Linked DNA regions of Homo sapiens: region 2 is linked to region 1. The links come from fine-mapping of genetic effects on gene expression. A gene starts in region 1. The other region holds a variant in brackets. All regions are shown on one strand. Distances are between the middles of the regions.

Region 1 (5,207 bases):
TGAGGCCCAGGTCAGGCAAGGCTGAGGTAGATGTATGAGACTTCTGTAATTTTCAGTTGGTGCCAACCCTGCCTGGTGTCCCTGCCCCTCCTCCCAGCCCATGCTCTGTGCCTGCCAGATGGCGGCCCCTGCACAGGTGCTGCTGGCTGTGGAGGAGCTGGGCTCTGCCTCCCTGTGCATGGGCGTCCCTCTCGGGCTCTGGCCTGGGAGTGTGGCTGAGTTGCTTGTCTCCGGAATGTACCAACTGTGCCGTCCTTGGGGGTATATGTCCTCGGGGGGATACGGCTCTGTGCCTGCTCCACATCAGGCCCCAGGAGCTGCCAGCAGGTACCAGCCTGCCCTGCCACACAGTGTGCCTGCAGCCTGTCCGGGGATGCCCAGGGAGGTGAGTGCCACCACATATCAGGCCTTTTCTCTTTAAAGTCATTTCTTTGGGGATACATCATCAATGTCTCATATACTGAATGTATGTCTGTATCATTGTGCAATTGCCTGTGTCATCGTTTATTTATCCAACCTGGGTTAATGTCTTTGCTATTATGAACAGTGCTGGACTGAGAATTTTCTAAACACAGCTGTGTGCATTTTCCTCTTCTTGCAATTTAGAATTTTAACTGCTGTTTTCAAGGTACTGTAATGTATTTGTTCTCTTCTTGTTAGGAGACTTGCCAACCCTGTGTGTCTCAGTTCATACCCTCTTCCTTCCCCAGTAGAAGTAACGACCACTGTGTTTATGTGATCATCCTTTTCTTGATTTTCCTTATAGTTTTCCTAGTGGAAAGTTTATCCCTTAAGAAGATAGTTCATTTTGCCGGCTGTAAATTTTATTTAGAAGAAATCACATTGAAAGTATTTTTTGGACTTTCCTTTGTTACTCCAATTACTCAGCATTGTCATGAACTCAACCACAGAGTCACCTGTAACCCTCACTGTTGTCCTTCTGGCTGTCTGGGTTTGCATTTCATGAACCTGCCATCGTTTATTTGCCTGTTTTCCTTCAGATGGCTGTTTGCTTCATTCTCAGTTTGGGGCTATGACAAACATATGTTCTGCACATCTTTGCCCATGAGGCTCTCAGGGAGGGCTCTGGAGCTGGCATTGCCTGCAGGGCTCTGCTTTGTTGCAGGGAGTTCCTGCCAAGGCTTTTCAGAGTGTCTGTGCCCAGCCTGAAGGTACACACTGTACTTTGCCCTTGCATCAGGCACTTTCCTTGTGCTTGCTTCTGTGTGGCTCCACATTCTGGAGAATTTATTCAGATCTGTGCTGCAAATCCATTTCACTGATTCTCTCTTTAGCTGTGTCTACATCAGCTGTTAAGCATCCCATGATGCAGCATTGTGGGCACAGGGCAAACTCTTGAAAGATGACAGTGTAGGATAGCGGCTGCTTCTCCTTCCCTGTGCCCTTCCCACACTGTCCTCCTGGGCTCACTCCCAGCCATCGATCTTGAACACCAGTTTATGGAACTATCTGCACAGGAAAGCAGAAACAGCAAAAGGCCCTGCTCAGGCTCTGCCCGCATCCCCTCTTGCACACCCGCCAAAGCTCTTTCCTTGGGGCCTGTGCAAGCTTCCCAGCTGCTTCTCATTTTCTGTTTACTCTGCTCACTGGCCAGTGGGGTGATGTCTGGGGGGGAGTCTGGTGCGTTTTGGGCATTGATGGCCACCCCTAGGCCCTACTTCCCAGACGCTCCCCCCAGCCCCTCAGCTCCAGAAGTGGAAGCGTTTACAGCAGGGCTTTGGGAATGGGGCTGTGTCACTGTGGGCATAGCAGCTGGTACTACTACAATATCCTCACAGTGACACGAGCCCCCACAAAATCCTCCTGTCCCCGCGGGAGTCACTGAGTCCCCTCTTGCTGTCTCTGGCTAGTTCTCCTGCTGATACTATGATTTCCAGGGGGTTTTTGTCTGAAACTCAGGGTGTGTTGGAGAGGACTCTGAGCCCAGTGCTGTACAGGGGGCTCCTCCTTTGTCCTGGGGGAGTTGCGTGGACCCTGTTTTTGGTCAAGGGAAGTACTTGCTGGTGAAGGAGACCTCCCCTCCTTTCTTTCTCAGGAGCCCCCTCTGATGCCGTTGCCTGGTGTTTCTCAGGGCTGGTGCTGGGGGCTCAGCAGTGTCTGCCCTGTTCCAGGTGGGAATGTGGGTCTGTTCTGTTTCCACGCGGTGTTCTGGGGCCGCCAGTGAGGGGCTCGGGATGTCAGCGGCTGGTCTCTGTCCCTATGGTCTGGGCTCCGGTTCACTGCTCCCCTGCCCTCCAGGTCGGTCACTGACTCAGTTACTATCCAGCGGGCTCCGTGGCTGTTCAGTGGTGGCTGCAGGTCTCTTCCCAGGAGAGGCCTGCGAGAGGGCTGGGCTGTCTGGGAGCCCTGCATTCTCCCATGATGTTGCTGCCTGGATCCCTCGTCTTTACAGGGAGTGCCGAGCCTCCCTGCAGGTGCGGGCAGTGAGAGACACAGGCGGACGTGCATCAGGGTGCTGGAGGCCGATTTCTTTCAGTGCCTTCTGCCTGTGGAAGGGCTGAGCTCCCTGCTTCTGTGCACAGGAGGCTGCCGTGTAACCGGGCAGTGAGGGCAAGGGCCTGCATGGGGAAGACTTGGGTGAGCCTTTGTCCTGGAAATACCAGGGCTGGGTCCAAGAGGGGAGCAGGGTCAGAGTGTCCAGGAGGAAGGTGAGGGCATGGGCAGTGTGGGGGTGGGAGTGCACGGTCAGTGCCATGGCTCAGGGGCCCCAGGAGAGGAAGAGCTCGAGTTGTGGGCAGGAGGAGGCAGGGGGTAGGCACAGAGGGTAGAAACTGAGGCTCTGGCAGCAGAAAAGGGGAGGGCCTGCATGTGCAGGGTTGGCCTGGGAGGGGTGTCTGGAGGGAGAGACAGGGGTCTGGGTGGAGACCAGGGTGTAGGCTGCAGGGATGGGACCCCAGGGTTGTCTGGATGGGCAGGAAGAGCAGCGGGGGAGAAAGGGCTGGAGGCAGGGTTGGGCCTCCCCAGGGTGTGGGGTGCAGGGAGGGGCTGCACAGGCTGTTCCCCTGAAGGAGGGAGGAGGGAGGGAGCACAGAGGTGCTGGGAGCAAATGGAGAGGGAAGTGGCAGCGGCCCGAGTGCCAGGCGGTCCCGGTTTGGGGTTGATCTTTGTGGAACAGCTCCCTGGCCCGTGTGTAAGTGGTCGGGGGAGGCACGGAGGTCTGGAGCTACAAGCGGTGGCAGGAAGGCAGGTCCCAGTCTTGGGGGTCTGGAGCTTATCTTCTTCCTGTGAACTGAGTGTGGGCAGCACCTATGGGCGGTGCCCTGGACCTGTGGTCTGGTGGAGTCCAGGCCTCCCAGGGACAGCAGGGCAGCCAGGGCTAGAGGAGCCTGAGGGTCCAGGTCAGGGTGGCCCTGGGGCCACTGCCTCCACCTTTGACCAGCTCTGCTGTGGGGATCTGGGCATGAGACCCCTTCACCCAGGAGGGGAGCCGCGTGAGTGAGACCCTAAGTCCATACCCCATGGGGGGCTCTGACCCTCCTGCATAGGGCCTGGACAGGGGTGGGTGGGGTGTGCGGGGGGCGGTGGGGAGCCCAGACTCTCCCAGACACAGCCTGCTCTGCTCCAGAATGTGGGCTTGGGCACTGCAGGCTGGCTGGGTCTGGGCTGCCTGGTGTGCCTGTGGTGGCTGCATTCCCACAGCCGGGACTGAGGCCTAGTGAGGACCAGGGAGGAGCCTGAAGGGAGCTCCATGGAGGACCTGCCTCGGATGACACCCCTATCTTAAGAAGGTCATGGTGGGTTCCAGCTGGGAGGAAGGGAAGTGGGCCACCTCCTGGGGGTCTTCCACCCCCACCACCTCAGCCTGGGGCCTCTGTGATTCCTCTCTGCACAGACCCCAAAGTCTGTGCTGCCGCAGGGCAGGAAGGAAGGGCCTGTGGCCTGGTCGAGGTTGGGGCCACAGTGGTGTTCCCTAAGCCCGAGTCTGGTCTCATGGCCCGCCCCGCAGCAGGTCCTGAGTGAGGGACAGAGACCGGGGCGGGGTCTTTGGTCCTGGTGGACTCTGGGGTGGATTCCAGTGGGGAGTCATCAGGGTCGGTGTCCCCCAGGGTACTGGGGTGTCTCTGCTCCTGGAGTCGGCTCTGGATGTGGGGTTTATGCCTGTGCTGCCTGGGGTTGATGCTGGGAGGTGCCAGTGACCCCCGTTTCCCTGAGGGACTCTTGTCGGTGGTAGGGTCAGTTCTGGCCAGGAGCACTGGGACCATAGCAGTAGGATGGGGTCCAGCCCCTTCCATGACCCCCTGGAGCCCTGGTCCCCGTCCTCACCATTCAGTGGGGTTCAGTGGGGACTCCACTGTGCTCTGGCTGCTGGGGGTCGTGTGAGCTGAGCAGGACCTAGGTTCGGGGCGGCTGCTCCCCTCTCTGGCGCGGCCTCCAGCAGGGGCCAGGAGAGAGTTTTGGACACAGTTTTTCTCACGGTGGTCGTTCCAGTTGTACCCACCGTGACTCGGGGCTGTTCAGAATCTGCCCCGGCGCCCTGAGCTCTGGGGCCTCCTGGATGGGGGCTGGGCTTGTGGGCGGCATCTCCTTCGGGGGCTCTGGAGGCTGGGGCTCGCTTTAGTTGTGGGGTGAGCACTGGGAGCCCCAGTTAGCGGAACACCCACAGAGACCGGGGCCTGTACACATTCCGCCCCGGTGTGTGGGGTGGGCCCAGGCCCCTCTGGGCAGGTCAGCTTCAACGGGGAGGGTGCTTGGGTCCTGTTAGTTTTCCTCTGGGTTAATAGGATTCATCTCCTGGCCCCAGATCCTCATAGGCTGCCCCTGTCCCTCCAGCAATGCAGGACATGGCAGGTCACCCTGGAGGGAGGCATGTTCTGGCCTGGGCGTCAGGTGTGGCACCTCAGATCCTCCATGCGTGCTGTGGGCTGAGCAGGACAGCAGACGACCCCGGGCCCCCACCCTGTCTATGGACATTTTTTGCTGCAGCAGCTGTGGGAGCTGACAGTGTTCACAGCCACACCAAGGTCATCATTGTAGTCAAGGCTTTCTAAAAGTTTCATTGTGAGGAAGCCTCCTATTAAACGGCGCCTGGGCCCTGCTTCCTGAGGGTTACTGCTGAGTCCCGGATTTCCCGTAGAGGCGACGAGAGGAGAGCAGAGGGAGGAGGAGGGGGATGAGCTGGGCCCTGCAGAAGGGGGTGCTTGGGTTGGGGTCTGTGGAGTGAAGATCTGGGCTCCTAGGGGCCACCC
Region 2 (5,207 bases), 9.2 kb after region 1:
ACTTGCCGTCATCTCTGCTGTCACTATTTTGTGTTCAACAATTGCCTTCTCTATCTGCTGTATCTTTTTCAGCACAGAAGCTGTAATGTTATTAAACAAAGCAATGTATCCAGATCACTCAGAATCTATGCCTGTCACGGGGAGCAGGAGAAGAGGGTGAATGAAGAGCCACAGCATGGCAGGGGAGCCACTGCAAGGATGCTGAAACTCGTGTGAACAGAGTTGCTGTAGGCAGGCTGCTATGGAACCTTTTGGGGAAGCACTGCCTCTTAGGGATGGCAGTGAAAATGGGAGAAGAGGGTGGCATTGCCTCCAGATGGAAGATGTAGTGCTTTGCCTTGCTCCTTGGTGCTTGGAGAGGGAAAGGGATGCTGCTGTAAAGTTCCTGGCTGGACTTTGGCTTGATAAAGCACGGGCACCTTTGGGAGTATGAGGGTGGGTGGGTGTGCACATCTTCCATGAGGAGCTGTTAGTATTGGGGCAGACGTTTCAAGTATGGCAGACAAAGGATGTTCTGCGTGGGGAAATGTGGTGACACCCATTTCACAAGGACAGCTCACATAGATTGAGTGCTCAGGAAGGACCAGCACCATACCCAGTGCCTGATGTGTATCATCTCAATTAGTCCTTGCCTCAGATGCAAAAGGAAACCATCGCCATCATCATCACCACCATCATCATCTTCCTCCTGTGCAGATGGAAAGGCTGAGGCATAGAGAGGTGACGGAGTCTGCCCAGGACTGCAAGCCTGCTGGTGGCAGAGCCAGGTTCCAATGGAATGAAGGCTGTCATCCTCAGATGGCAGGGTAGGCAGGTGGCTAGAGCTCACTTGGGAGAAGGGGAAAGGACACTGACTTTGGCTAGGGATGGAGCAGAGCTTGGGCTGGCTTTCCATGCACGGGCAGGGGGCGTGGCTCATGGCTACGCTCCAGCCCCGGGTGTGGACATTGAATCTTCCAGGTCTACCCTAGGCTATGGGTCTGGACAGCACTGTGATGGAAAGAAGACACTCTATGTCCTGCATTCTGTGACCAATGATGTGACTGTGGGAATGGCGCTGGCATCTGGCTGCCACTCTGGGACGGGTGGCCAGCTGCCATCAGGCCCCACCCAGGATGGGACCACCATGCGACTTCTTCCCTCGCTCCTCCTGGTCATGTCCAGAGCCCCAGGAGGACCAGCAAAGCCTCTCGAGCCGATGGCAGCTCACGTTCTACCTTGTCAGCTACTCCTCTCCTGGGCAACATTGGCTGCTTGCTGTGGCTCTCCCCGGGGTATGTGACTGCCTCTGTGCTGGGCACCTGGCCTGGGCTTTCCTTCTGGGCCTGGGCAGCTGGGCTCAGCTTGGACCCAGGCAGCAGCCACAGAGGGGCCCATGGAGGTGACAGAGTTGCTTCTATGATGGTGAACGGGCAGCTGTGACACGGAGGAGGCGACCACTCCTCAGTTTCCAAGTGCTGCGGTCAGGGCCGGGGCCAGCAAAGTCCCTCCCATATTCAAAGAGTGGGTTTGGGTTTGTCCCAGGAGGACATAGTCAGGAGCCCATGCTGGCACATGCCTCCTCCAAAGTTCAGCCTGGATCCCCAGCCTCTGCCAACGGCCCCGCTCCTTAGCTAACCCAGCTTGCTCCTGGGTTCCACGGCGGAGTCAGATGTTTCTGGGCAGTTTCACCTTTGTGCCTTAAATGCATGTTGAGGACTTTAAGGAATTGTGGAGAAATAGGGCTGTGGCAAAGGCAAGTGACAACTGGGAACAATGATCCTGCAGAGGCTGCTGAGGCCTGGGCCCCAGGGGCGTGGGTTCATCCTTCTGCCTGGGCTTTGGTGGGAGGGGCAGACTCTGTGGTCTGAGACACAAAAAAACCCAAAACATACGTGTGTACAGACACACAGCAGAGCCACACACACACTTGTGCCCATGCACACACTCACAGGAGGCCCGTGGACTCCGCACAGGGAAGAAACTCCTCCGGTCGACAGTGGACGGCGCTGCAGCAGGGACTCACCCCCAAGCCCTGCCTGCCTCCCATTGCCCACCTGGCCCTGGCTTGATGGGCTTATCTCATGCTGTGGCCGGGGACCTCTTGCTTCCTGCAACCCCTTGCTGGACTGGGGCCTGGGCCTCTCCTGGGCTGTGCCTAGGGTTTGTAACCCAGGGCCTGTGCCGGCGTGCACAGAGCATCTCTCCCTGGGAGGCTCAGGGCTGCCTCCTCGAGCTCTGTGGGCCTGCACTGGCCGGTGAGCTTGTGGTGTGGGTTTTCAGGCTGTATCCTTCTACCTCCTGAGCCCAGGGGTCCCAGGCGCCCTGCAGCTGTCTCCTCGGCCATCCTGTGGGGCCCCGAGGCCTTGCCCTCACTTCAGTGCCTGGGTGCTCAGGCTTTGCCCAGGTGCCAGGAGAAGGTGTGAGCATGAGCCTATTGGACACACCTGGCGACGTATACCAGGTGTCCCA[C/A]CCCTGCCACCATGGGGCCTCCCGATACGGCAACCACCACGGACCTGTGGGGACCAATGAGGAAAGAGAGAGGCAGGTCTGGGCCAGGCTCACAGGGACTCCGGCATAGCAGACCCTGCCCCAGCAGGCCCCCTTGTCCTTCCTGGGTCCTGGTCCTTCATGAGGAACTAGCCCATCCCTGGTGGGGCTCCCACCCCGCTTCTCAGTGGGCTCTATGCTTGCCTCGTCGGAGTCACCCCTCAGGCAGTCCTGGGATCCTCTCCTTTAGACCCACTGTGCCTTCCCGGCCTCCCGGGCTTCTGCTGGGGGCAGAAGAAATGCCTCCCCAGGTCTGTCTCTGGAGGCTCTGAGGGAGATGGGCTTGGGGGCTGTAGGAGGAGGCAGGGATTCCAGGGTGTCAGGAAGGCAGGGGTGCCAGGTCCCACCTAGTGAAGTAATAAACCGTGGGTGGTGATAGTGACCCAGTGCCCTCACTGCCCAGCCCCGCCTGTCCTCAGCCAGCACTGCAGGGATCCCAGGCCCAGACTCTGGAGGCCTTCACTGATCCCAGCCACCCCAGAAAAGCTGCAGCCTGCAGGCACCAGCCGGGCCATATGCCCAGTGCCAGCTAGGGCCCACCGCCCATCCTGCACACGGGGCCGCTGGGCAGGTGCCCCTCACACCCCCAGGATGTCAGTGCTCACCTCGAGCAAAGCGCCCCAGCTCGGCCTTGGGAGGTGGTCGTGTCCAGGGGGATGATGGAGAGCTGTCCAACCAAGAGAGCGGGAGGGAGGGAAGGAGGGAGGGAGAGAGATAGAGAGAGAGAGAGAGAGAGAGAGAGAGGAAGTGTGGGCCCTAAGGCTGCCTTAGTGGAGGTGCGCGTGGCCTGCACCTCACCAAGCCTAGCCACTCTCGCGGCTCTGAGTGGCTCACAGGCTTGTGAGGGCCCCGTCGCTGCCTGCTGGGTCCCCACCAGGGCTCCCTCTAGGAATGCGCCATGGCTGCTATGACAATTTGCACAGCCCAGTGGCTTAAACACCATTTATACCACAGGTCCAGATGAATCCTGCAGGGCCAAGGTCTGGGGGTGCTGGAGGCCATGCTCCCTCCAGGCTTGCGGGGAGAACTTCCCTGCCTCCTCCAGTCTCTCCATCCCTGAGCTCTCGGCTCCTCCTCCGTCTTCAGGGCCAGGGCGTAGCGTCTGCTCTCTCGGCCTCTGCCTCCGCTTCCCACCTCACCTGGCTTCTGTCTATGTCAGTCTCCCTCTGCCAACCTCCTAGAAGGACACTTGTGATTACATTAGGGCTCACCCCTTTAATCCAGGGGAGCCTCTCCACTTCATGATTTTCAGCTAACTTGCTTCTGCAAAGACCCCCTTTCCCTATAAGGGCACACATTCACTGGTCCCGGGGCTAAGGACCTTGCTCCAAGTCCCTCCACCCATGATGCTGTGCCTTCCAGAAACCTGTCCTCTGCAGCTCGGTCTTGACCCCAAGCCTGCTGGTGACCTGAACTTCACAGGGTTATCCCCTTGGACTGTGTGCAGCACGATGCAATTTCTGGGCCTGAATGTCATGCTCCCTGGGGCAGGACCTTGAGCCTGCAGCACACACTAGGCCACCTGCAGTCTCACAGGCCATGCCCTGGGTAGACAGGGAGGTGCTCAACCCCAGCTCGGGTCCTCTAGTCTGCCTGGCTACCATGCTTCTCACTCTCCTGCATCTGCAGACCCTGCGTTGCCATGTGAGGCAGGGGTGGGGTGGGGCTGAGGGCGTGGCTTTGGTCCCTGGCTGTCCGGATGAAGTACCAGAGTGACGCCACAGCCCATCCCGGTGACATGCTCACCCCCAACCCCCGTGTCCGGGACCCCGGTCTTGTGTGGTCCCTGATGTGGAGTCCTCAGTCCTTAAGATACATCCAGAAAGTCCTGGCCATGAATTGGAGGTGCAGAGTCCTGCAGAGCCTCTGGGCTGGGCTGGTGCCCCCAGGAGATGGAGGGCCTGGTGGATGCCCTCCTCCCTCAGAGCTGGGGCAGCTGCCTCCCAGGGGTGGGACTCTGGGCTCAGAGAGAGGCCCTTGAGCTGCAGCTCAGGGGGATGCGAGGCTTCGTGGACTGTGTCCTGGTCCATGTGGTGCACGTGTCTCCACCTCCAAGGAGAGGCTCCTCAGTGTGCACCTCCCCCACATCCGTCCTCTCTGCCGGCCCCGGGCGTCTGAGCAGTCATTCCATGCCAGCACCTCTGCAGCCTGCTGGGCCTCAGGTTCTCTGTGAGGGACCTCCCCGGCCTTCGGCGGAGGTGGAGTAAGCTCCGTCAAGGCAGGTGGCTTCGTCCCTTCCTGTGAGTGACACCAGTGATGAAATGGACCCCTCCACACAGGCATCCTCAGGGCACAGGGCCCTGGGGGCACCTTCCTCCTTTCGTATTTGTTGAGAAAAAAAGTGGCATTGCGCTCACACCAGGATGCTGGAGCAGAGCTGACATGCTCGGGAAAGGGCAGAGGTCACTGGGGGTGGGAAGGTCATCCAGTCCAGACTCAGCACCTCGTGGGCTGGTAAACTGAGGCTCAAAGTGCTGGTGCCAGGCCTGAGGCCTCGCGGTGACCCCTCTCTCTGGTTCCCAGCACCTGCCTGAGACCTGCCCCAGGCACCCATAACCTGGAATTCCCTGTTTCCTTGTCCAGGGCCTGAGGAAATGGCTCCCCAGGTCTGTCTCTGGATGCTCTGAGGCAGATGGGCTTGGGGGCTCTAGGAAGAGGCAGGGACTCCAGGGTGTCAG

Evidence for each region.
Region 2: its variant is fine-mapped to the expression of FAM30A in whole blood (INTERVAL, PIP 0.95).

The regions. Positions count from the first base shown.
Region 1 is chr14:105,915,063-105,920,269 of GRCh38, forward strand. FAM30A (family with sequence similarity 30 member A) reads left to right here and starts at 2,917. Exons shown (of 6, transcript NR_026800.2): 1 at 2,917-3,755. It also overlaps IGH, IGHD2-2 and IGHD1-1.
Region 2 is chr14:105,924,264-105,929,470 of GRCh38, forward strand. FAM30A (family with sequence similarity 30 member A) reads left to right here. Exons shown (of 6, transcript NR_026800.2): 6 at 73-5,207. It also overlaps IGH. Among named protein-coding and RNA genes, the nearest start is that of FAM30A, 8.9 kb to the left of the region's middle. The variant C/A (reference allele first, on the strand shown) is at 2,452.